Linked DNA regions of Homo sapiens. The protein of the gene in region 4 interacts with the protein of the main gene of each other region in a pairwise test. Each region holds a gene or a part of one and is shown on either strand. Other genes may lie near its edges.

Region 1 (3,500 bases), about 33 Mb from region 4:
CCTTGAAGTTTGGCTTAGCATTCTGAAAATCCTTTTTATTGTTTGCCAGGAAAGCACTGTAGGAAGGAGGTGTTATCTCTTCATTTAATATTTAATGAGTAGTATAGATGATGAGATAGGATATAATGTAGAAATACCGTAGAATCTTCTTTATTGATATGAAAGTACCATTGTCTAGGAACAGCATAATTTCTTATCTTTTGCATGAATGGGGAAAAAGAGGAGGGGAAATTTATTAGACTCTTTCATTTCATTAGAGATATCTTCCCTCACATTCATTCTTCATTTCATTATTCTTAAGTAGAAACTTTGGAAGAGAGATGCAAGTATTTGAATTAATTAGTAAGAACAAAATGAAAATTACATCGTATAGACTATCATGAGGAAAATATCAATTTGGGTTGGTTATTGTGTTTGTATTTTTTAACAAGGAGGTTATATAGAGTAGTAGAAAGAAAAAAGGACCCAGAGGGGAAGAGTGTTAATATTTATTGTCTGTTAAGTGTCAGATCCTGTATAAGGGGCTTTTCATGTTGTCCCACTCACCAAGTATGCTTTATGAGGTAGGTATTATTAATCCCCTGTCCTCTCCCTGCCAAATAGAAGCTAAGGGAAATGAAATAACTTGTCTAGGCTCATACTTCTAGTAAGTGGAATTCTCTAAAACTTATTCTTTAGATCGGTTCTGTCCAATTAAACTTTCTGCAATGATGGAAATATTCTTTTTTCCTTCAACTTTATTGAAGTATAATTGACAAATATCATAGAAATATTTTTTGCACTGTTAGTTATGGTAGCCATTAATCATGTGTGGCTATGGAGCACTTAAAATGTGACGAGTGTGTCTGAGAAACTCAATTTAAAATTGTATTTAATTTAAATCAATTTAAATTTATAGCCAGATGTGGCTAGTAGCTATAGTATTGGAGAGCATAGCTTTAGGTCTGACTGCTTAGAAAATCTGAGTTGTAGTATTTAATCTTCCACTGGTTTATGCATGGCATTGGGCAAGTTGTTTAGTTCTGGGCTTCAGTCTAATCTGGTGTGAAAATGAAGGGGTCGCCACTAAGAGATTATCTCCAAGGTTCCTTCTTGCCTGAAGTTCTGTGACTGTTATTAAAACATACAGTAGCATTCAATATTCACAAGCATTATGTCTGAAAGGATCCCCTCCCCAATATGCTCACCCATTACCTAAAGATTTCTGTTTAGTCAGTTTCTCTTTTTGAGAAGCGTATGTATAAAGCACACATAAAGGATAGTGGATTATTCCCCACCTCCCCAACTGTTCGGCAAAAACATTGTGTAACTCAAGGCAGTACTTTATGATGGAACAAAGTTTGAATCTTTAAAGGCCATATTTTAACATGCCACCTTCCCGTTTAAAAATATATAGGAGTTCCCCGGTGCTTATCAAATTAATCCCAAATTTACCTGCTTGACCTTGAAGACTTTCTACCAACTTCATCTCATTAACCTTGTTTCTCATTCGTGCTTAAAAAGAAAATAGTCTTGTTTTTTCCTTTGTCCTCGTTTCCATAATTTAAACATCTCTGTCTCCAATTCATGTGCCTCCTCTTTAAACCTTTTTCAAAATTCACCTGTTTCTGGAAGAATGCTGCTTAATCCACTCACAAGGATCAGTTAATGAATCCTGGTAATAAGTACCCTAAGGTTAATATATGCTTGTTTAGATATAGTTTAATATCTTCTTAAGCTTTTTTTTTTTCTTAAGTTTTTATGTTACCTACTCTGTTTCCTTAATTTTCTTAGGTTAAAAAAATTAAAATAGGAATAGCGTCTTTTGTATTGTCTTATGAATTTAGTTCATTTTTCAACAATGCTACTTTTAAAAGTTGCTAATTTTTAAAAAGGATAAATACTGTAACAACGTTTACCCTTGATCACCACCATAATAGCTATTTTTTGTTTCTTTCCAGGTAATTGTTCATATTTAAAAAATAAAGTTGTGTGGTAGAGAGAATTTTGAGAGGAATATAATGGGAACATTGTATGGTGGAGGCTGTGCAATGTAGGGGAAAGATCACAGACTTTGGAGTCAAATCTGGTGTGGAATCTAGCGTCAAAAACCTCGGGCAAACTGTCTGATTTCTGAGTCAGGAGTCAAATCTGGTGTGGAATCTAGCGTCAAAAGCCTTGGGCAAAGTGTCTCATTTCTGAGTCAGGTGGTCTTGAATTGTGGGGATTAAGATACTATATGTAAGGCATCTAGCGCTGTGCTTTAAATACAAGAGATGATCAGTCAGTGATAGTTGGTATTATTTTTTCATTTTTCTATTCCCATCTTCATGAATATTATTTATTTATTTTAGCTACCCAAAGCCACCAAGGTCAATGAATATAATTTAAGTGATTAGTTAAACATTCAGGTGATATACCATAACTGATTTAGACATTTACATTTTGTTAAGCGGTTTTTTGTTTATTTCCTCAGTTTAAAACCCTAGGACTGGGATAATGGTCAAGTGTCATGAATATTTCTGTGCCAGATCTCTCTCTTACAGAAGTACCTACAGTGGTTGTTCTTGTTTTGGGAAGAAAAAAATGCTAATTTTATAATTGTATTTCATTGTTTTAATTAATGTAATTTGAAAATTTATTTGGTGATGATGTAATGAACATTCCTTTATATGTTAAGCAAACATTTGAAATGCCCATTGTAGTGGGAGCAGTGGTATAAAGGTAAATAAGACATGATTCTTGTCCTTGAGCTCAAATTCTAGGGTGGTAACACATGTCAACAAACAATTAACAATTCATAGTGACAGTGTAATAAGATCTGGGGAAAAGAAGTGGCATTTGAATATGGTCTTGGAGGATCATTTGGAATTGATCTGGGTAGAGAGAACAGCATATAGAAAAAGTCAAAGTATGAAAGAATGTGTGGTGTGTTTGGAGAAATGTAAGTTGTCTTGTTGGATATGTCTGTCTCTGTCTGGGTGGGTGTGGTTGTCTGTTCCTGTGTGTGAATCTGTGTGTGTGTGTGTGTGTGCGCGCGCGCATGTGCGTTGATTGCAGTGGGAAATGAAGTCTTGTGAGGGTCCTTGTGTTTGGGCAATGAGTGGGATCATTTTAAGACCTTTAAAATAGAGCTTCCCAACTGGTGTGCCATGAATGGTTTACCAGTGTTTCGGAGAGCAAGATACCCTTGTTTAATGGGACCTGGGCATATCAGATCCCCCTCCCCACCCTGCCCCAGGATGGTTTCTTTTGGCTTTGAATAGCATTTGTGGCTTATCCCAACGTGCTAAGAAATTATTATTTTCTTTGTTGCCAAGTTGGGAAAAGGATTGGGAAAACCACTGTTTTAGAGACTGTAAGTATTAGAAAGTTTATGGTTCCTACTCACCCTTGGCATCCACTATGGAATCAGAAATAAATATCAAATCCTAAAGTAAGCTTAAGGTAAACTTAAGAATTCTTAAGTCACCTTCCTCTTTCTCTCTCTTTTTCCCTCCCTTTACCCGCTGCCTCCCCCA
Region 2 (3,990 bases), on a different chromosome or scaffold from region 4:
CCTCGGCCTCCCAAAGTGCTGGGATTACAGGCATGAGCCACTGCGCCCGGCCTTACTCTGATTTTCTTAAACTCTCTACCATGAGGTAGCATGAGTCCCATTTCACGGATGAAGTAACCGAGGCTCAGAGATATAAAGCCACTCACCCCAAGTCAACACAGCTAGTAAGAAACAGAGCCTGAGGCTGGAAAGCAAGTCCATCTGTCCCCCACACCCACGCTGCCTCCTGGACAGTTACAGCTGCCGAACAAGAAAGGAAATAGAATGTCAGGTACCTTTCTGCGTCCTGGTCTGCACTCTGCTGTTTGCTCTCAAAGGCGTTGAAGCTGCTCATGTCCACGTAGCCATCATTTTCGTTTGCTGTGGACAGGGCTCTGCTCTGATCTTCAAACAGCTTCGTGAACGCGCCAGCCCTGGCAGGTCTCCGGGGTGGAATCTGGATATTCTCATAGTCCGAGTTCATGGCTGGAATGTTCTCATAGTCTGAAGTGTCAGCGCTGGGGAAGGAGATGGACCGTGGCTTGGTCAGTGGCAAGGGCAGGAAGGGCGGCCGGGAGCGGTCTTCAAAGGACTCCACTCTGGACACCGTCCTGCTGAAGGGGACACCTTTCCTCTTGCCATCTCTATAAAAGATGAGGGAGGAGGGGGATTCAGAAGCCCGGAGCTTCCCAGTCCGAGACTTAAGCTGAGGGGAGTTGCTGAGGCTTCTCCGGTCAACTTCCAGAATCCTGGAAGGCCCGTGGTAGCTGGACTCTGAAGAGGACCTAGAGGAAGACACGTTCACATCCACATGCAATTTGTTCTCCGTCTTCTTCTTAAACGTCAGTGCCAGGAAGCGCTTAAAGGATGACTTCTTCTTCTTGTACTTGTCCGGGGAGTCGCTCTCGATCAGGAGTGAGGGAGAGCTCTTTGTGATGGGCTTCTTGGTGATGCAGGCCAGGTCGAAAGGAGGTGGGATGTCGACCATGGAAGAAGGCGTGGAGGTGCCGCTGGACGGAAGGTGGTTTCTCTGGGAGAAACTCCCAGAGGAGCCAATTACACACGACAGAGAGAGATTGTCCTCTTTCCTCTTTATCCTGTGGTCATCCAACCCTGACCCCTCAGGCTCCTGGTACACGGACACTGGAATCTCTCGGCCTTCCACGGAGAACGACCGAGGGTATAAAGTAAAGGCCCTGGGCTTTGCTGGCAAGGCCCTGCTGGCTTCCAAGGGCTTCCCCTCCAATGACAAAAGCGTCTTTCCCACCTCCTCTGCGGCACCTCCAATGCCAGGGGCTGACGAGCCCGCCTCAGGTCCGGTTTCTTCAGGGACGGTTTCTGGGACATAGCCGGCCACCTTCCCAGAGTGGGGCCGGACCCTCGTGCTGGTGTTCTTCCTGTCCGCGGGAACCAGGCCACCCTCTGCCTCACAGTTCAATTCTTCTTTCGAGCCATAACCACCCAGGGCGTCCGATGCAGCCTGCCCTCCTTCTCCAGGGGCCGCCTGACCGGGCAGGCCCACTCCCATCACATAGGGGTTGGCCAGTGCATCATCCAAGGCCTCCTCCTCCAGCACGACCACCACATCAGGGGCTGCGGGACCCTCGGCCGCTCCACCCTGTAGGGAGCCACACTGGCCACACAAAGCCCCCACCATGGGGTTCTCCTCCGCACGCAGCCCCAGCTTTGGTGCCTGCTCTGATTCTAAACCTTTCGCTGATTCAGAAAGAGGAGAACAGCTCTCGCTGCAAAAAGAGGTGCTCTCAGTTGGGAAGAACTCATAGGGGCTTCCTGTGAGGGAAGTCACGAAGTCCTCCATGCAGTCATTCTCAAAAGGGACAATCTGGCAGCTCTCCTCGGCGGACTCATCCTGTGCATGGTCCTCCAGGGTGGCGGCTGCCACTTCTTGGTTGGTTTTCTTCTCGTGGTCAGGTGGTTCACTGAGGTCAACCTGTTCCCCACCTGTGACACCCGTGGCCTCTTCACATCCCTCCTCAAGAACTTCAGGGCAGTCTGTGGCTGTCTCTGCCTCCTGGACCCCGGCCAGCTCCTCCTTCTCAGGGGGCTCCTCACTGGTGTCCTCAGCATCCTGTCCCATGTCCTCCGTGGGCCTGTCAGGACCCGAACCCTCATCTGCCCCTGCTGGGTCTGTGCTGGCACAGCCTTCCTCATCATCCTCCTCTGCCTCCCCGGGGGTGTCGGGGGGCTCCTGGTCCTCTCCATGGATGTGAGGCAGGAGGAGGTCGCTCTGGAAGACCCCCTCTCCAGCCCAAGGCCCACTGTCCTCCAGGCTGCACTCCCTGTGTGGCTGCACTAGCTTCTCTTCCTCCTCACTTCTGGACACCTGCTCCAGTGTCCCTGGCTCATCAGCGCAGCCCTCCCCTTCATCCTCAAGAGCAAGGTCTGTGCCTTCCTCACCCTCCCTGCTCAGCGCTCCTGCACCCGGAGCAGCAGGGGCCACTGAATCCTCACCAGCTCCTGTACCCTCCAGGCCACATGCCTCGCCTCCCTCTTCACGCTCCTCTTCCTCTTCCGCAGAGGACTCGGGAGACACCAGGGCTTTGTTCCCCACACTGCCCTCGTCCTTGGGTTCATCCTCCCTCAGCGGAACCCTGGGGACCACGATGTAATCCTCGTCGGTCTCCGACTCAGAGCACTTTGGGATGGACCGGGGCCCCTCATCAAGCCCCCTGTCTACACAGGGCAGCCGCCCGTTGCTGCATTTGTTCAAGCTGTCATTCAGGTACACACTGGCTCTCCACTCGTTTGGGGCAGTCAGCCTGGGCTTGGGGGCAATGGGGGGCTTCGGACCCCTGAACATGGAGTTTGGACTGTGAAGACTCTCGGGCCTGGCTGAGGAAGGGAATTTGGGCGCGGTCACTGGCGTCAGTGGACTGGTAGTCTTTGGCTTGGGAGCGACAGGTGGTTTTGGTGAATCTAGATGACAAAAATAGAGAAAAGGAGAAAAAGTACAATTAACTTTATTGCCATTCAGAGTCTCCTACACACCAGTTGCAGGGGACGCCACAGATGGTTCCGTCCATCCATGTGAAGCCCACCTCCCGTGCTTTGTCTTAGGCTTATGCCCTCCACCAGAATCTTTAAAACCCCTTGATTTTCCACTAAAGATTCATTCTGTAAACAAAGTGAACAGACCTTTCTTCTACACGCAGCCCAACTAACGAAAATCAACCAAATGAAATCCTGTGCTCCTCAAATGAAGTGTCCAGGTCAGTGCATTCATTCATCCAGCAGCTACTGATAAACACTTTCTATGACCCAGCAACCATGGGAAAAGGCTGAACTTGCTGTCACCCTCCCTGCTGCCCTCATGGAGCTTACATCCCCCCTTCTACAGCTACTCCATTGGGTACCCACTAGCTACACGCACAGCACTGCAGATGGCAGGGTCTCCTAGGGTCAAGAAGAGAAAACAGACTCTGCTGAGAACTCACAGTTGAGTTACAACAACTGGAGGGTAGAGCCGGGGACCCTTGGAATATTATGACTGAATAGCTGCCATTTCATCCCTTCATGAATGACACGCCAAAGGTTTGAAAGAGTGATGTGTGCTTCTGCTGGGGGTCACGTCTGGAATCTGCATGCTTCAGGACTGTGTCCAGCCAGGCCTACACCCAAATTTCATGGGCATGCAAATTTCATGGGAGAAATTATATAGTACGTGCCAACATGGATCTCTGGAAAAGGATGTACTTGCCACATGGATATCTGTGGATGCTGAGGACCTTCTGACCATGGCAGAATAAAAGATGTGGTGCAGACTACAATGCAACTGGAATTAGAGAAGCATGGGCTGCTGTGGCCAGGGAAGACCTCTTAAAGAAGGTGATATTTTAGCTAAGATTTGCAGGATAAGAAGGATCTAGAGAAGGGGAACGGTCAAATGAGTGGTTGCCAACTTTTGAGCTCAGCATCTCTCTGCTACAAGACTGCCCATGCCTCCTCCCTGGCTTCCTTGTCACCTGCCTGGCCCCCTAAGCTCCCTTGCAT
Region 3 (3,500 bases), on a different chromosome or scaffold from region 4:
GTGATTCTTGTGCCTCACCACGCCCAGCTAATTTTTGTATTTTTAGTAGAGAGGGAATTTCACCATGTTGGCCAGGCTCATCTCAAATTCCTGGCCTCAAGTGATCTGCCCACCTCTGCCTCCCAAAGTGCTAAGATTACAGGTGTGAGCCACCACACTTAGCTTTATACAGCTCACCAAAATAAATAAATAATACATAAAAATCCATAACGAATCCTCAAAAAAAAGATAAGTTTACAAAATAGTGAACCGAAAGTTAAAAAAATTATGTGACAAACCTACTACATGTCAGAGTAAAGATCTATCCCTACATCTTCTTCCCTTCAAAGCAAAGTTCTAAGAGAAACGACCACTATAGGATGTCAATCCAAAGAATCATTTATCCTCAAAGTACTTTGCTTTAGCCAACCTTGAACTGGGTCTAATAATTATTATAAAGTCTTAGGGAGATTAGGTAACACTTTCAAATTGTCTTGAGTGCCTGTGATATGTAAAATTCACACAAAAAAACTTTATTTGGATCACTAAAAAGAAAGATAAATGAATATGTTGTAAAAAGAATACCTGTATAAGCAAAAATGTTAGGTATGCACTAAAACAGTTCACAAATTACCACACAAAAACATTTTTATTCAGAGGTAACCAACTATACAATTTGAACCAATTTTTAAAAAAGTTTACCATTTGTAAAAAATATTTGTAACTTCCAATATTCTTCCTCTGAGAGAAACTTTAAATCCTTTTGGCGCTCCTTCAACAGATCTTGTTTATCCAAAATCCATTGCAAACTAGAAAAGACATGTTACAGAAAATCAACAAGCAAGGTCAGAGGAAACACTCTAAGATTGAACACATTGTTCATATTCTGAGAAGTACAAAGTGCAAAAAGTAACCTTAAAGACAATTATTTCTCACATTTCTTGAAACGTGACTAATAAGAATTATCTCACTAATAAATGTAAATACGTCCTGAAAAAATTCTGCTCTAATCTTTTCCTTCTTCCTCCTTAGTCTGTTACTAGCTTGTATTTCATTGATTCTGGCTCTGATATCAAGATATGTCTTACAATCTGTGATGCCTTCGTGTTTTAATTGGCAGCATGTTTATTCTTTCTTAGTGATATAAGATAATGGTGGAATTATTTGGCACCAATTGATGGTGGCTTAGATTTGAGGAAGTATATAGTTTTCCAGCTGTTCATGGGTAACTATGGCATTTAATTTCCTTACTTCACAAATCTAATTATATTAAAAACTGCCTCAGAATGTGTTACACTGATAGCCTCCTCCTCTTGCCTAGTCAAGTGTGCTATTTTTAACCAGATATGAAATTGACATGACTCAAAGAAAAAACTATCTTGAACCTGTGTTTGTCATTCAATATGTATTTGAAGTCTTATGTCAATGAACTTGTTATTCAGCATTCTTTTATACAGCTTTATGGATGGATCATTATTTAGCCAATCTCTACTGATGGAAATACAGGTCGTCATTTTTCACCCATATTTTCTGATACCCTTAAGGGCTTTTTTCCTTCAATTTATGATCCATCTGGAATTTATTTTGGTACAAAGTAGGGATCCAGCTAAAATTTTGTCAAATGCTTATCCAAATGCATGGAGGTATTTCCTAATTTATAATTCTATCATTATACTTGGATCTTCTTTATAATTTCCTATTTTTTTCTTGTTCACATGCTGTGCTATTTTAGACACAGAAAATTAAGTAATTAATAGCTGGTATAAAAAAAAACTCTCTTCCTACTATTTTCCTGAATGATATTCTTCTTAATGAATATCTTTGTAATTCTCCTTGCATATTTGATTAATAATATATTTGAAATAACTTCCCAGAAGTAGGATTAATGGGTTAGTGTTGCTGGTAACTTATTGATACACATTGTCAGTTTACCCTCCAAAAACATTATACCAATTTCCATTTGTATTAACAGTTCATGAGTGAATCTTATAATATTTAATCCTGGCCGGGCGCGGTGGCTCATGCCTGTAATTTTAGCACTCTGGGAGGCCGAGGTGGGTGGATCACCTGAGGTCAGGAGTTTGAGACCAGCCTGACCAATATGGTGAAACTCCATCTCTACTAAAATTACAAAAATTAGCTGGACGTGGTGGCGTGCGCCTGTAGTCCCAGCTACCTGGGAGGCGGAGACAGGAGAACTGCTTGAACCCGGGAGGTGGAAGTTGCACTGAGTTGAGATCATACCACTGCACTCCAGCCTGGGGTACAGAGTGAGACTCTGTCAAAAAAAAAAAAAAAAAAAAAATTCCTATGGGTTACTGCCACTTTTAAATACTTTGTAACTTAAAGGCAAAGTAGTATGTCACTGTTTCTTTTCCCTGTAGTTTACTTTTGAGGTTAAACATCTTTCCATGTCTTTATTGGTCAAATACAGTTCTTCTTTTGTACAATGTTAATTCTAATATGACCATTTTTCTAATGGGATTACCGATTTTTTTAATGATTAAGAGATTCTTCTGATCTAAAATTTGTATAGTATAAATAATAAATCATTTGTTTGTCAAATAAGTGCAAAATTTCTCCCAAGTTTAAATATCTCTCAGTATTTATTTGTAATACAGAAATCTGAATCACTTACTTAAATCTACCTTTTACTTTCATGTTTGTCAGGCATAGCAAGGCCTTTCCTGATTCAAAACGATAAAAAACAATTCACCCATATTTTCTAATACCCTTAAGAGCTTTTTTCCTTCAATTTATGATCCATCTGGAATTTATTTTGGTACAGAGTATAAAGCAGGGATCCAGCTAAATATGTTGTCAAATGCTTATCCAAATGTGCTAAGGTATTTCCTGATTTATAATTCTATCATTATACTTGGATCTTCTTTATAATTTCCTATTTTTTTCTTCTTCATATGCTGTGCTACTTTAAAACATAGAAAATTAAGTAATTAATAGGTGATATGAAAAATACTCCCTTCTATTCTTCTGAAAATTTCTGACTATTCTATCACAATTATTCTAAGACCTAAACTTTAGAAGCATTATGTCGAGTCCTAAAAAAGAATATCCATTCAAATTTTGTGATTACATTACATTTAAAGATCAATATGGGGAGAAATGACATCTTACCAAGAATTCAAACTCTATTAAAATCTGTATGTGCCACTATGGACTTTTAAAGTTTTCTTCCTACAGGTTCTGTATATTTCTTTATATTTTTCCCTCTGTATATTTTCTGTTGCTAATGTAAATTATACTTCTCTATCCATTTTTAAAAAGCTTTTATTTTTGCATTTTATAACTGGTCACCTTCCTAAACCTTTATTATTTCTAATAACTTCTCAATTAACTGAGTTTTCTCATTAATTTTATTTCCACGTATTGATAATTTTGTCCCTGTTTTGTCATTCTTTCTATATCTCCTTTGTATCAACTGTATTGACTAGCATATTGGTAAAATCTTAAATAGGCACCCTAATTATCTCAATGTTTCACCACTGCTGATGCTTTATGTT
Region 4 (3,500 bases):
GTCAAGAATTTACAGACATTAGGTCTGAGTTAAGATATTTTTTAAAAGTACTTGCTTGAGTCATCCACATGTACCCAGAAGTTACCCAGATTCAAGAATTATGAGCAGATGACCTAAAAAACAAAAATTCTATCTCTTTTTTGTCACTGGCTAATGCCCAATTCAATGGCATGGATCCTGTAGCTACTCAAAAGGAAGGGTAATTCAGAAGGAACAGCAACAAATAAATTTGTCAAATCAGTCAGGTAAGTCTAAGGTACCAATACACTAAATTTCTCTGCAAGGCCTATATCCTACTTTGTTATTTTTTCCTCTACATTACCTCTACATTACTTATAATACCTTACACAATGTAAATGCTATAAAAGTTATTATACTTTATTTTTAAAAATTTGTATTTTTTTGTTGTTGCTTTTTTAAAGACTATTTTCCATCGCAGTTGCTTGAATCTCTGGATACAGAGGGTCGACTGCAAATGGAAATATTTTAGTTTTATTCTCCAAACAAAAATTATTTATTTCATCTTATTTATCTTCCATTTTTGTCAAATGAAAAAGTAAGAGTAAAGAGGCAGACACTAAAAACAAGAATAAGTAGTAACAACGTAAAGTCACAAGTAACCACTGGAAACAGTCACATTTAACACTGACTGACTTATGGGCTTATACTGCAGGAAAGAATACCTGTGTATTTGTTTCATTCATTCAACAAGTATTTTACTGAGCACCCATGATGTGCCAAGAACTGTGCTCAGCACCTATAGGCTTCTTAAAAAGTACAGAACATAGCCCCTGCCCTCTAAGAGCTTACAATCTATTACTTGTTGGAAAATTAAAGCAAATTAAGAAACCATAAAACAAGTCAATAACTAGGTGCCAAAATAAGTGAAACGGTAAGAGTTATGGGTAGATTACAAATATTTTCTTTAATAATCTGAAGGGGAGGTATATGTTGGCAAAAGTCATTTTTGAGAAACTTTTGGAGAAGGCAGGACTTGAAATAGTACAACATAGGTAAGCAAAGCAAACTTCATGGTGATACTGAGCTGGGGGCAGGAGGGTAAGAAGAACAGCCTAAGTTTGAAGTTGTGAACTAATATAATCACTCAAGACACCGTGAAAAGACCAGCCTAAGTTCAAATTAGGGAGTGTAAAGACATGCAGCCTTGAATCCTGCTTTGACATGTACTATGGGGAGGTTCTTTAAAGTTAAGCTGTGGAATTTAGATACTATGTTATAGGCACTGAAAGTACTGGAGATTCTTGGGCAAGGAGATAACACATTGAAATCTAAAATTTGTGGGGGCAGGGGGGCATCCTTGAAGCAAGAAAACCAACTCAACTCAAAAACTGTTGAATAACCTAGGCATGGGAGAGTGACGACTTGGGCTCATGTGGTAGCAGGAACTGAAATAAAATAAGATCTATTAGAGCCAGCCTTACTCAATATAGGAGCAAGAAAATCAAACTCATTTGTAAAAAGCAATTATTCATTTATCAGTTTACTGACCAAAGACCAAAAAAAAAAAGCACTGAATAAATAGAATTAGGGAGGCATTACTAAAGGAATTTTCTGTTCTTTCCATATCATCCCATAAAATCTGATATCTACTCTTATCAAATGATCTGAACTGAATCATAGGATGTTAGAGCTGAAAGGGACCTTAACTCAATTACTCTACTCTTCTCACTGATAGAGGAAAATAAAGACTCAAATAGGGAGGAAAAAAAAAGAGCCAGCTAGCATGACTCTGGGGCAAAGGCATAATCATCTGTGATAAAGATGGCAGGACCTGCATGTCCTTTGTGTAGAAAACACAAAAGACATGAAAACAGTATTTACTATGGACACTGAGGAAGAAGACAGCCTCACACATAATTTTATTGATAGAAATCTCTACAGAAAATCTTTATTTTTTTGAGATAGGGTCTCACTTTGTCACCCAGGATGGAGTGCAAGGCGTGATCTTGACTCACTGCAGCCTCGACCTCCCAGGTTCAAGCAATCCTTCTGCCTCAGCCCCCTAAGTAGCTGGGACGACAGACGCACACCACCACACCCAGCTTATTTTTAAATAGTTTTTGTAGAGATGGGGTTTCACCATGTTGCCCAGGCTGGTCTCCAACTCCTGAGCTCAAGCGATGCACCCGCCTCAGCCTCCCAATGGGAAATTTTTGAGTACTGCCATCCAGCAGGGAAAATTCTTTATCTTTCTTTACTAACATTTAACCAGTGATCCTCAAAGCATCTTAAATCACATATTATTTAAAGCTTAAACAACCTGTAAGGTCCCTTTCAGCTATAAGATCCTATAACTCTAAAAGTATGACTTTCCTATAAAGTTATATAGAATAAGAGGCAAATTTAATCTACAAGATAGAAAACTGAAATAAACCTGAAAGAATATTAAGCTCAATTTGATAATCATCAAATATTTATTACTACTAAGAGTCAGCCTAAATGCATGAGATGGCACTCTAGGTCATCTCATGAATTAAGAAAAAAAAAATTTGAACACACCACTTCTTTAAGCTAAATAGCTTGATGCATTTGAGAAATTATGAACCCTGGCTTCCGTACATCATTATGCTACCCAGTCTGCATATTATTTTACAAACAAGTTTTACAGTTTCATGTCATATTGGTAACATTCCAAAGACCACAATTATTTGGCAAGTAAGACTGCCACCAATTTTAGTCTTTAGCTAGTCCCAGCATGAGATGTTCATGCAAACCAGTCAACACATGAAGGTTTTTATAACCTTCAGTCCCAAAGTCTAAAGAATTTGTGAACTGACTTTTTTAAATTGCATGGCAGAACCCTCCCAACTGTCACTACTGTGAATGATACAGACAGACATCCTGCTTCTTCTCAATTATCTTCTGACCACTTATTCCTCCTGAGTACTTCCAAGAGTGGCAGAAGAAATAATGCAGGAAAAAGGATCAATTGTCCTATTTATTATCACCTTTAATTTTTAAAGCAATGTTTACAGAGTTTCAAATATGATTTCTGATTTGAGAATTCAAATTATCCATGCTCTCCCAGTCTGTTATAAAGCTAAAACAAGAATTTGTTTTACCAAGATTTGGGACCCATATTTGTTAGTGAAATATTAAGGGGATAAAAGGGAATTATATAATTCTGACAAAAACAGCGGAGATTCTTTTGGGACTTTCAGGGCATAACTCCTACTAAAACATTTATTTATTATACTAACAGGAGCCTTCAGAGGGAGAAGAATTCTAAACATCTAAATAATTAGGTCTACTTAAAGGCACGTGGCATATATTAGCCTAGGAAAAAGTAGAAGAAAACCACACCAAAAAAATCAGTTATTTGAATGGATGTGTACCGAGTAGCAAGTAAACTTACTAGAAAGATGGTCACTGATACAGCTAAAGAGAAAGGGCCATAAAGCAAACTGTGACCAGCTTATGTCAATGAGATACATGAAAGTACTTTTAAAAAATAAAATCTGCATTTTTTTTTTTAACTA
Region 5 (3,500 bases), on a different chromosome or scaffold from region 4:
TTTTTTTTTTTTTTTTTAAGCTCATCAGCTGTAGTTAGTGTTAGTGTATTTTATGTGTGGCCCAGGACAGTTCTTCTTCCAGTGTGTCCCAGGGAAGCAAAAAGATTGGACATCCCTAGTTTAGAGCCAGATTTGTGGCCCTCCTTAGGCAGGGTCTACACTGTTGTAGGTAGGTGTGTGCATTTTCATATCCTCATTCCTCGTTCCATTACAGGTTTCTACCTTTGTGTTCTTCCTGTTACTGTAATTAACATGTCAAACCATTTCCTGTATTCTTACCTGCTGACCCAGATCTTTTCAGGATCAAGGCAGGGGATGGGGGGAGGATAGAAGAGGTAGAAGGGACTAAAAGGAAGATTGTGCATGTCAGCCTGACTCCCTCACTGGGTTGCTGAAAGGCCCGAATGAGGTGAGTGGGGGCCAACATCACGGCCATATGAGTGGGAAGTGATTGTGGTGTCACTGCCAAGTGCAAGTCATGGGTCTGGGCAGCAGGCACATGCTGGGCTGGGTCTCTCTGGCCTGTCCAGCCTCCTGTCCAGAGACAGCAGGGGCTGGTGAAGGCAAATCCTATAGCTAGGCACCAGGTATTTCCTGGCACAAGGCCCTTGGCACAGACCAGCACTGCTCCTCAGTAGTGTCCTTAGCTCACCAGGGGCTCTGGGAACTTTTGTGTTTTCTCGGGCAAGGGAGGATGACTTGAGGCCAGTACCCCTCTCAGCTCTCTTCCATTTCATGGAAAGCCCTGGATGGTTCTATTGCTTCTCTCTCCAGTCCTTCCAGGGGCCAGGAAGGCACTCAAACCAGCTTGTCCAGCAACTTTTCCCCAGGACTCTCCCTCCCTCCCACAGGATCTGCTCTATAGGGACCTGCGGTCATGGTCACCCATTGCCCAAGCAGGCCAAAAGGCTTCTTGGACTCTATACACTTTCCTGATCTTGACCTTAGTCATCCACCAAGCCCCTGTGATTCTGTGTCCTGCGTTGCCTTGGGATCTGCCCTCTCCTCTGCCACCTGGAATACTATAGACAGCCTCCACCTTTTTTTTTTTGTTTGTTTTTTGTTTTTGTGATGGAGTCTCACTGTGTCGCCTAGGCTGGAGTGCAGTGGCACGATCTGGGCTTACTGCAATCCCTGCCCCCCGGGTTCAAGCCATTTTCGTGCCTCGGCCTCCCAAGTAGCTGGGATTATAGATGTGTGCCACCACGCCCAGCTAATTTTTGTGTTTTTGCTAGAGACAGGGCTTCACCATGTTGGCCAGGCCGGTCTTGAACTCCTGGCCTCAAGTGATCTGCCCACCTCTGCCTCCCAAAGTGCTGGGATTACAGGTGTGAGCCACCATGCCTGTCCCAGCCTCCACTTTTGTCTCCCTGGCTCCCCCAGGCTTTCGTTACATTGGCACCAGGCTCTGAGAGACCCTTTTGCCATTGCAGAAAGTCCTGGTACTACCTCCCATAGTGCTGTAGCCTTACTGACCTTCTCACCTGCCAACTTGTCTGCCCAGGGTACCTGCTCCCCTTTGGTTCCTTGGCCCTTTGTTCTTCACTGGCACTTTATTTTTTTGAGACAGAGTCTCGCTATGTTGCCCAGGCTGGAGTGCAGTAGTGTGATCTTGGCTCACTGCAGCCTCTGCCTCCCAGGTTCAAGTGATTCTCCTGCCTCAGCCTCCCAAGTAGCTGGGACTATAGGTGCACGCTGCCACACCCGGCTAATTTTTGTATTTCTAGTAGAGACAGGGTTTCACCATGTTGCCCAGGCTGGTCTCAAACTCCTGACCTCAGGTGATCTGCCTGCCTCGGCCTCCCAAAGTGCTGGGATTACAGGCGTGAGCCACCTTGCCTAGTCATTCACTGGCACTTTTGTGTCTATGAAGTCCTTCCAGCTGCTGAGCAAGTGTTCCAGGCATCCTACCCTGACCTTCTGCTGCCCAATTAGGTGACCTTGCTACCCAGAGAGCACCCACACCCACCCCTCACAAGGCTGCACATACTGCCCAGGACCTGCTGCTGACTTGCTGGGTTTCCTTACAGGCTGCCACCTCTATGTCCTGAATTCTCAGGTCTCACGGTCCTGAGAGGTGATAAGTGTGCAGTAAACATGTGCTGACTGAGTGGCCCTGCCCTGGCCCAGGTGGCCATCCTCTCGCAGAGAGCGAGCCTTCAGGTCCAAGGAGACTCCCTCAGTTTGAGGAAGTGTTGCAATCTCACGGAGAGAGTGAGGGCTCACCACAACTTCACGTTGTGCATATTAGTGTTGCATTCTCCAAACCTCAATTTCTTCATCCTTGAAACTGGGGTTTTACTACCCAATACAAGGTAGAGTTGTGAGGATTACGTGAGATTGTATGTATCAGGTCCCTGATAGACAAGAAAGCTTTTGGCAATCTCCGTATCTTCTTTCCTTTCCTGAGTGTCTCACCTCATTTCCCTGGGCAAGTGGGGCTCTCTCTCTCTGTGTTGCTCCTGCCTTGCATGGTTCATTCAAGGCTACTTCCTTCCACTGCACTAATTTGCCACCCCTCTCTGTGGCAGGAGGAGTTGGAGCACCTGAACCAGGCCAGCGAGGAGATCAACCAGGTGGAACTACAGCTGGATGTGAGTGTCCTTTTCCTTATGTGCTTGGGCTGGTCCTTGGAAGTATCTCCATCTGTCTCTTTCCCAGATTGAGGCAGTGGCGGTGGGAGGGGTGTGTCTGAGAAACAAGAGGGGCTGGGACCCAAACATGTGCCTTTCCTCTGCCTTGTTCCTTTCCAGGAGGCCAGGACCACCTATCGGAGGATCCTACAGGAGTCGGCGAGGAAACTGAATACACAGGGTTCCCACTTGGGGAGCTGCATCGAGAAAGCCCGGCCCTACTATGAGGCTCGGCGGCTGGCTAAGGAGGTATGGCTGGCTGACCACGTTTGAGGAAGGCTACGTGCTGAGCCTGGCCCTGGATTCTTCTGTCTCTATATGGAGTGAGAGACAAAACACCAGACCCTGAGGGCAGAGCCCTGGGCTAGACCTGGCTGGTCGGAACCAGCTCTGTGGGCTCAGGAGGTTCCTTTACCACGTGGGCTCTGGGCTTATGGTCTATAAAATGGTGAGGGTGGCTGTGGGAGAATATTTAGTTCAGCCCTGCTAATGTTTAAGTGCCTTCTGTGTATCAGGAATCAGGCTTTAGGGTATATCAGATATGTCAGTTCTAACATCCTGTTGTTTTCATCTGCGCCCATTTCCTCTTCCCTTTGGTTCATGTCTCTCTTCTGAATCTTTTCTTTGCTTACTCCTCACTCTTTTCCCCATCCCACACCCCTTTTTTCTGTAACAAATTACTTTTAACAAATAATATGTGTTCACCATTGGAAAAACATAATAAAACAAGAAGGAAACAAAAATCACCCAAAATCCTACCATGCACGTTTCATGCATTTTGTTTCCTGGGATTTGTTGTCATCCTGTATGGTGAGGTGACAGATACAGACAACTGCCTTGGAAGAAGAGTTTGTTCCCGAGAGGAGG
Region 6 (3,500 bases), on a different chromosome or scaffold from region 4:
ATGCAACTGAAGTCCATTCCACTTGGTGCCCCAGCAACAAAACTGTTACTCACATCACAGCACTGTGCAGCGCCAGGCTTAGTCATTCCACAGCCCCGCTGCAGAGACACCCGCAGCCGCTACCTGCAGCCACGACCCATGGCGCCCGCCCCCTGCAACCACGGCCCCGGTGCCATCACAACTACATTCCATTATACTGAGTTGCCATGACAACCATATTTCACTACCCATGATGCCACGACAACCACAATTCATGACCTACTGTGCTGAGGCAACCAGAGTCTATATTGCCCACAAGCCCACCATGGGAAACCACATTCTGTTAACCACAACTCTATGGCGAGCTCATCCTGCTACCGGTGCCCAGGTGGTGGTGTCCGTCACTCACACCACACAGCCCACTACCTGCCATGCCTTGGCCCCTGTCTCTTGCTACTCCTTTTGTCTTGTTTTGGTTTTTGAAACAAGGTCTCACTCTGTTGCCCAGGCTGCAGCATAGTGGCACCATCACAGTGCACTCTGCAGCCTTGACCTCCCAGGCTCCAGCGATCCTCCCACCTCAGCCTCCCGAGTAGCTGGGACTAATGGGGTGCGAAACTATGCCCAGCCTTTTTTTTTTTTTTTTTTTTTTGAGACGGAGTCTTGCTCTGATACCCAGGGTGGAGTGCAGTGGTGCAATCTTGGCTCATGGCAACCTCTGAGCCCCGGGTTCAAGCGATTCTCCTGCCTCAGCCTCCGGAGTAGCTGGAACTACAGGCACGCACCACCACACCCAGCTAAATTTTGTATTTTTATAGAGATGGGGTTTCACCATGTTGGCCAGGATGGTCTTGATCTCTTGACCTCATGATCTGCTCGCCCCAGCCTCCCAAAGTGCTGGGATTACAGATGTGAGCCACATCACCCAGCCTGGCCTATTTTTTTTTTAATAGATGGGCTCTCATTATGTTGCCCTGGCTAGTCAAAAACTCCCAGATTCAAGGGGCTGGGTGCTGCGGTGGCTCACGCCTGTAATCCCAGCACTTTGGGAGGTCAAGGCAGGCAGATCACCTGAGGTCAGGAGTTTGAGACCAGCCTGGCCAACATGGTGAAACCCCCGTCTCTACTAAAAATATTAAAAATTAGCCAGGCATGGTGGCGGGTGCCTGTAATCCTAGCTACTCGGGAGGCTGAAGCACAAGAATCACTTGAACCCAGGAGGCGGAGGTTGCAGTGAGCCAAGATCATGCCAATGCACTCCAGCCTGGGTGACAGAGGGAGACTCTGTCTCAAAAAACAAAACAAAACAAAACAAAACAAAAACCTTCTGGGCTCAAGCGAGCCTCCCACTTCAGCCTCCCGAGTAGCTGGGGCTAATGGGGTGCAACACCATGCCCAGCTAACTTTTTTTATATATAGATGGGATCTCACTATGTTGCCCAGGCTGGTCTCAAACTCCTGGGCTCAAGGGAGCCTCCGGCCTCAGCCTCCTGAGTTGCTGGGATTACAGGTGCACAACAACACACCTGGATAATTTTTAAATTTTTTGTAGAGATGGGGGTCTTGCTATGTTGCTCAGGCTGGTCTCAAATTCCTGGCCTCAAGTGATCCTCCCACCTCTGCCTCCCAAAGTGCTGGGATTACAGGCGTGAGCCACCACACCTGGCCTCTCACTACTCTTGATGCCATGCTAAGCACAGGCAGCTACCCACAGTGCCATGAGAGCCACATCCCATTATCCCTAAAGCCTCACTGATCCGACCCAATTCCCACAATCCTCAGCAGTTGCATCAGCCTCGCTAGCTCTGGTTATCCACAGTATCCCCTACATGCTCCGGGTCCCCTCGGTCCTCACCGCCTTGCCTCCCTCCCTCCAGGTCTGCACTCCTGAATGTCCTCTGCACCCGGCCCCCAGAAACCTCAGGTGGGGAGCATCACCTGATCGCCCACAGTCCGCACAGGAGATGAGGTCCTCGGGACACCCCGTCTTCTTGGAGCCCCCCAGGCAGAAGTCACAGTAGCCGTTGGGGATGACAGTGCCGTCGGGCGCCTTCTTGGCTGCAAGACAGCAGACAGGCATTGGCACGGGGCAGGCAAGGGCACCCCGCAAAGGTGGCTGCAGACTTTAGGAGCAGAAGGAGGCATCCGTACCTGTGTGTTTCCTTTGTGCCTCAGGGACCCAGGCCAATTCTTTGTAAAACTCTGGGGTAGGGGGGACAGAGAGAGGGACTCTCACCACAGGCAAGGCTCCACCCTGCCCCCAGCCTCAGCCCCAAGGATGGACCTCTTAGTCCAGGCGTGGGGAGCTGGGAAGAGTGAGTAGCTACCCCAAGCTGTGGGGAGAGGTGAAAACAGTTCTCATCGGGACTCCCAACTCTGCCTTTTTAAATTTTTTTTTCAATTAAAAATAAAGGCAGGGTCTTGGTATGTTGCCCAGGCTGGTCTCCAACTCCTGGCCTCCAGTGATCCTCCCACCTCGGCCACTGCCACAAAGTGGCGGGATTATAAGCGTGAGCCACTGCACCCAGCCAGGATTCCCAACTCCTTGAGACAACTGACATGTCCTCTTTATTGGGTCAAAACTTGGTAGACAGCTTGAGGAAGGGCTCCCTGCCTCCCTTCTCACATACATGTCTCCCAGCCAGCCACTCCCAACTGCACCCTCAGTAATTTGTATCTAACAAATTCAGCGAGTACCCCAGCCAAGATCTGGTATGGAAACAGACACTCGGAAGAAAAACTCCGAACACTGAGGTGCGTGGGTGTGTAGTGGCCAGGGGTGAAGACACTCAGCCTCTGCCTCTGAGAGATAGGTGGGAAGACAGTGTCTCCCTACTGCCTCTCCCAAACCCTCCTCCCCTCCCCCATCCTTCAGCTGTCAGAACTGGCATGGGATTGGCAAGGGCGGAAGCCAAGGGCTCCCAGGCCACAGACCCTGCCCCTTGACCAAAGCTTAGCAGAGAAAGGAGAAAGGGAAGGCAGGGCGGGAGGGGAGCCATCTATCACCCCCCCTCCCCAAGCTCTAATTGAAACAATAAATCAGACCCAGAAATATTACGCCCGGCCAGGAGCGAAGGAGCGATGGTTGGTTGCCATGGCAACCCCGGAGCCAGCATCCCCATGGTCGGTGGGGGGAGGGAACGGCTGAGCTGGAGATTTTCCAGAAATGTCTAATGCCCCCCCACCCCCACCCCCAGCTGGGCTCCTCTTCCCCACTCCCAGGGCCCCTGGCCACCCCCACCTGGCCTGCCAGCTCACGTTTATGGTTGTTTTTCCGGTGGAAGGGCAGGGCGTGGCGTTCGGCGTTCTCCTCCCCCTCCTCCTCGGCCAGGTGGGTGTGGGTGTAGTGGTAGCTGAGCCCCGGCCGGTTCTTATACCGTTTCCCACAGACTGGGGAGCGAGCGAGCCAGGAGGGCCTGTCAGCCCCTCCGGGCCCCTGCCGCCTCCACCCTGGCCTCCAGGATCACACCTCCCCCCTCAGCCAGAGACCTGAGCAGCCTCCCAACCCGGGTCTGGAACGG
Region 7 (3,500 bases), on a different chromosome or scaffold from region 4:
AAATAATCTTATCTCTGCATGTATTAGAATTGAACTCATGACAAAAGGCACTGATAAATTCATCACTCAAGTATCCCACAGTTTTAGAGTAAACAAACTATGAAACTTTTTCTTGGCAGATCATCATCTTTACTAAAGTTGAAACTTTTACATGACAGGGAAATATAACCAGAACTCTAAATAAAGTACTTTACATCAGCTAGTTCCTCACCAGTCTTTGGTTAAATTATTATTTCAGCTTCATTAGTCTTTAATTTTCGTGATTGTCTGGGCAACTGAATGCTTCTACCCAAGAGTTTGAATCTGAGGCAACTGACTTAATAGATCTGAGGCAAGTGACACAATAAAGTGGGGAAAGTTAATTCATTCTGCTGTCAGGATCCAGTTTCCAGGGGCACTGATGTCACTGGCAGTAGCAGCCCTAACCAGGTTTGGGCTTGTGCAGGATCTTGGATATGGGTTCCCTGGGTCATTTCTATTTTCTGACCCTTATTATGCAGGCTTTGCTTAGATTCACTGAGCTAGCTGATATCTTTCCTTTTCTGCTTAAGTTAACTAGTCAGTTTCTATCGTTTGGAATAAGAACCCTGGCTGATATAACGGTACTCAAAATCCATGTCAAAGTGACTATAGTAGAGCTATATTGTGAGGTCCTTACTCAGCTAAGTTACCTACTTCCCTGCCTTGGGCTCCCGTGCAGTTCTTGGCTCCATTCCTTTTTGAAGTTTGCTAAGGCTGTTCAGAGTAATACAGTGTGCCCACCTCAAAATTTTCCTTTCTAATCATGACCTGCAATCCAAAAGGCATTATATAAAAACTTATAAATTTGACATTGGAAAAAAACTGAATGGCAAAAACCACCAAAAGCAAACTCAAAAGACACGTGGAAACTTGAGGAAAAAATATTTGCGCCTCATAGGACCAAAAAAGAGCAATTATCCCTATGTATATATCTCAGCAAATCATTAAGAAAAAGATCAGTAACCAACAGGAAAAAAATGGGCAAAGGATGTTCACAGAAACGGAAATAGAAATGACTCTCAAACATGTGGAGATATGCTCAGTCTTACTTAAAACAGGTAAAATGTACACTAAAAACTATACTGGGATTCCATTTTCACTTATCAGAATCGCAAAGATTGAAAGGTTGAAGGAAGTGTAGGGGGGCATACTCTCATACATTGCTGGCAGGAGCATAAATTAGTACTATCTCTTATGGAAAGCAGGCTGACAAAACCTGTCAGAATTACAAGTGTACATACCTCTCTGACACAACAATCTCACATTTGGGAATTAGTTCTCCCAATTTATGTGCACAAATGCATACTGACTTATGTACAATGTTATTCACTATAGCATTGTTTTTAATAGGGACAGAGTAGAAATAATTTAAATATCAATACGGAACTGGCTAAATCAATTACGGTATGAAATAATGGGGATGGTTTTTATTTAATGATGTCATGATCGCTAAGATATACTGTAAAAAGAAAAAAAGCAAGGTGCAGAACAGTGTTTATGGCATGCTGCCATTCGTATAAAAAAAAGAAGATGATAGAGCAGGAGCACTGTCATCTGGGACAAACACCACCACTTTAAATTCCAGCTCCCTTTCTAGCCTCATGCATTTCAAGGAAATTACTTCTCTTCTAATTGTAAGCAGCCAGAAAGAACAGACAATAACATACAGATAAGACAGCTGGGCACAAAGGGAGGTGGGGGGAAAGTCTCTTGAGCAACTGCCAAACTTCACCCTCATACAATGGGCCCCAGTAAAATAGTGGGCCTTAATAAGCACATTCCTTTCCCTTCAGGTGCACTAGGATAGAAAAGCTACATGCAGACTGATAGGCCTGCAGCTGCAGAAAGATGTATGGGAACAGACACACAACTCTCCCTCCCAGATAAGCACAACAAAGAGTCAGAGAAGCAGTCCAAGCCTCTGATAAACTCTCCCACCCTGAATCTTTAAAAACTCTTAGTTTGTAAGTGAGTGTGCCTCTGACCTAACTTGGCCAGAAGGCACCTCTCACGTTTGTTTTCTCTAAATAAATCTGTCCTGACTGGCGAGCCATCTTTTCATGTTTCTTACCTCTTTCTTTAATTCTTACAGAAGATATTAGACATACCTCTGTAAGGATATAGATTGGTTACTTGAAGAAAGAAAACTAAGTCCAGACAGAGAAGGACTTGAGTAAGAGACATGTCACTATATACCTTTTGGCAGTTTTAAAATGTGAAAGGTGATTAAATTACCCTTTCAAAAACCAATCTGGAAAATCTCCCTCAAACAAACAAAACTGTAACACTAAGAAAAGTAACTGTCAAGTAAACATTATCTGACAAAAGGCAATTATTGCATTTGTAAATTCTTCAGAGAGGTTACATTGCAGACTTTCAATAAAATTTTATTAATTCATGATGTCAGAGTCTTCATTCTTATACTTGCTAAATATTAAGGGCTTACTCTGAATCTAGTATTCTGTTAAACAACTTGGGTGATAGTGGGAGGAATCAGGTAATTGGGCTGGTCCTTTTTCTTCCAGTAACTTAAAGTAGCCATATAATTTTGAATCCAACTCAGTGCTTACCATGATGGAGAGTTGCTAAGAGGTGCTCAACAAATACTTATTGATTTGAGGTTATAAGCTTAAGAAAATACAGTCATGTTTCATTTAATGACAGGGATACATTCTGAGAAATGTGTTGTTAGGCACAACACAGAAATTTTGTCCTTGTGGCAACATCATGGTGTACATAAATCTGGGTGATATAGCCTGCTATACACCTAGGCTATATGGTATAGCCTACTGCTCCTAAGCTACAAACTTGTACCGTATGTCACTGTATTGATACTACAAGCAGTTGTAACACAATGGTGAGTACTTGTGTATCTAAACATACCTAAACATTGAAAAGGTACAGTAAAAATAAGAGTATTATAATCTTATGGGACCACCATTGTATATGCAGTCAGTTATTGACCAAAACATCATTTTGTGGTGCATGACTATACTTCAGAAGTTGGAAACTGGCAACTTCTCTAGACCCCAGTTGCCAGCTAAGAAATACGCGTGTGCGTATACACACACACTCAATTTATTTGTCAAAATTCTTCAAGCCAAACATTTGTGATCTGTGCTGTTTTTAAAACATGTAAATTATGTCTTAGCAGTTAGCACAAAAGAAAAAAAATTTTAAAGTTAACAGTAGACAACGAAGAAACAGAAAATATTGAGAAAACCAAAAAGAAGGGACAAAAATAAAAGGACTGAGAAAAATTGAGAGAAAGATGGCGAGTCCTCAACACTTGCTTCAGGTTGGTCAGTGGTCCGCAAAGGAATGTCATATTCGATTTAAATTTATTTCCTTGAAATTTTACATCACCTATCTTTCCAAAGGCAACAACTTAGTCACTGGGAATTTTAACAGTGATGCTTAGAACTTAATATATTTTTCCTATTGTCTATTTTGGAATTTAGGGAAGCCTGACATTTTCA

Evidence for each region.
Region 1: the proteins of PRPF40A (region 4) and PTPN4 interact in binary tests that used the Homo sapiens proteins (3 or more experiments, as listed by UniProt).
Region 2: the proteins of PRPF40A (region 4) and FGD5 interact in binary tests that used the Homo sapiens proteins (3 or more experiments, as listed by UniProt).
Region 3: the proteins of PRPF40A (region 4) and CCNC interact in binary tests that used the Homo sapiens proteins (3 or more experiments, as listed by UniProt).
Region 5: the proteins of PRPF40A (region 4) and SH3BP5L interact in binary tests that used the Homo sapiens proteins (3 or more experiments, as listed by UniProt).
Region 6: the proteins of PRPF40A (region 4) and DPF1 interact in binary tests that used the Homo sapiens proteins (3 or more experiments, as listed by UniProt).
Region 7: the proteins of PRPF40A (region 4) and SREK1IP1 interact in binary tests that used the Homo sapiens proteins (3 or more experiments, as listed by UniProt).

The regions. Positions count from the first base shown.
Region 1 is NC_000002.12:119,762,922-119,766,421, forward strand, and holds part of PTPN4 (tyrosine-protein phosphatase non-receptor type 4), read left to right. Parts: intron 1-3,500. UniProt on the Homo sapiens protein: Phosphatase that plays a role in immunity, learning, synaptic plasticity or cell homeostasis. Regulates neuronal cell homeostasis by protecting neurons against apoptosis.
Region 2 is NC_000003.12:14,817,882-14,821,871, reverse strand, and holds the start of FGD5 (FYVE, RhoGEF and PH domain-containing protein 5), read right to left. Parts: upstream 2,801-3,990; coding exon 276-2,800; intron 1-275. UniProt on the Homo sapiens protein: Activates CDC42, a member of the Ras-like family of Rho- and Rac proteins, by exchanging bound GDP for free GTP. Mediates VEGF-induced CDC42 activation.
Region 3 is NC_000006.12:99,562,161-99,565,660, forward strand, and holds part of CCNC (cyclin-C), read right to left. Parts: intron 789-3,500; coding exon 682-788; intron 1-681. UniProt on the Homo sapiens protein: Component of the Mediator complex, a coactivator involved in regulated gene transcription of nearly all RNA polymerase II-dependent genes.
Region 4 is NC_000002.12:152,710,962-152,714,461, forward strand, and holds part of PRPF40A (pre-mRNA-processing factor 40 homolog A), read right to left. Parts: intron 1,407-3,500; exon of another isoform or gene 1,343-1,406; intron 1-1,342.
Region 5 is NC_000001.11:248,815,916-248,819,415, reverse strand, and holds part of SH3BP5L (SH3 domain-binding protein 5-like), read left to right. Parts: intron 1-2,531; coding exon 2,532-2,594; intron 2,595-2,753; coding exon 2,754-2,882; intron 2,883-3,500. UniProt on the Homo sapiens protein: Functions as a guanine nucleotide exchange factor (GEF) for RAB11A.
Region 6 is NC_000019.10:38,214,223-38,217,722, forward strand, and holds part of DPF1 (zinc finger protein neuro-d4), read right to left. Parts: intron 3,370-3,500; coding exon 3,238-3,369; intron 2,182-3,237; coding exon 2,131-2,181; intron 2,038-2,130; coding exon 1,918-2,037; intron 1-1,917. UniProt on the Homo sapiens protein: May have an important role in developing neurons by participating in regulation of cell survival, possibly as a neurospecific transcription factor. Belongs to the neuron-specific chromatin remodeling complex (nBAF complex).
Region 7 is NC_000005.10:64,758,692-64,762,191, forward strand, and holds part of SREK1IP1 (protein SREK1IP1), read right to left. Parts: intron 790-3,500; exon of another isoform or gene 1-789. UniProt on the Homo sapiens protein: Possible splicing regulator involved in the control of cellular survival.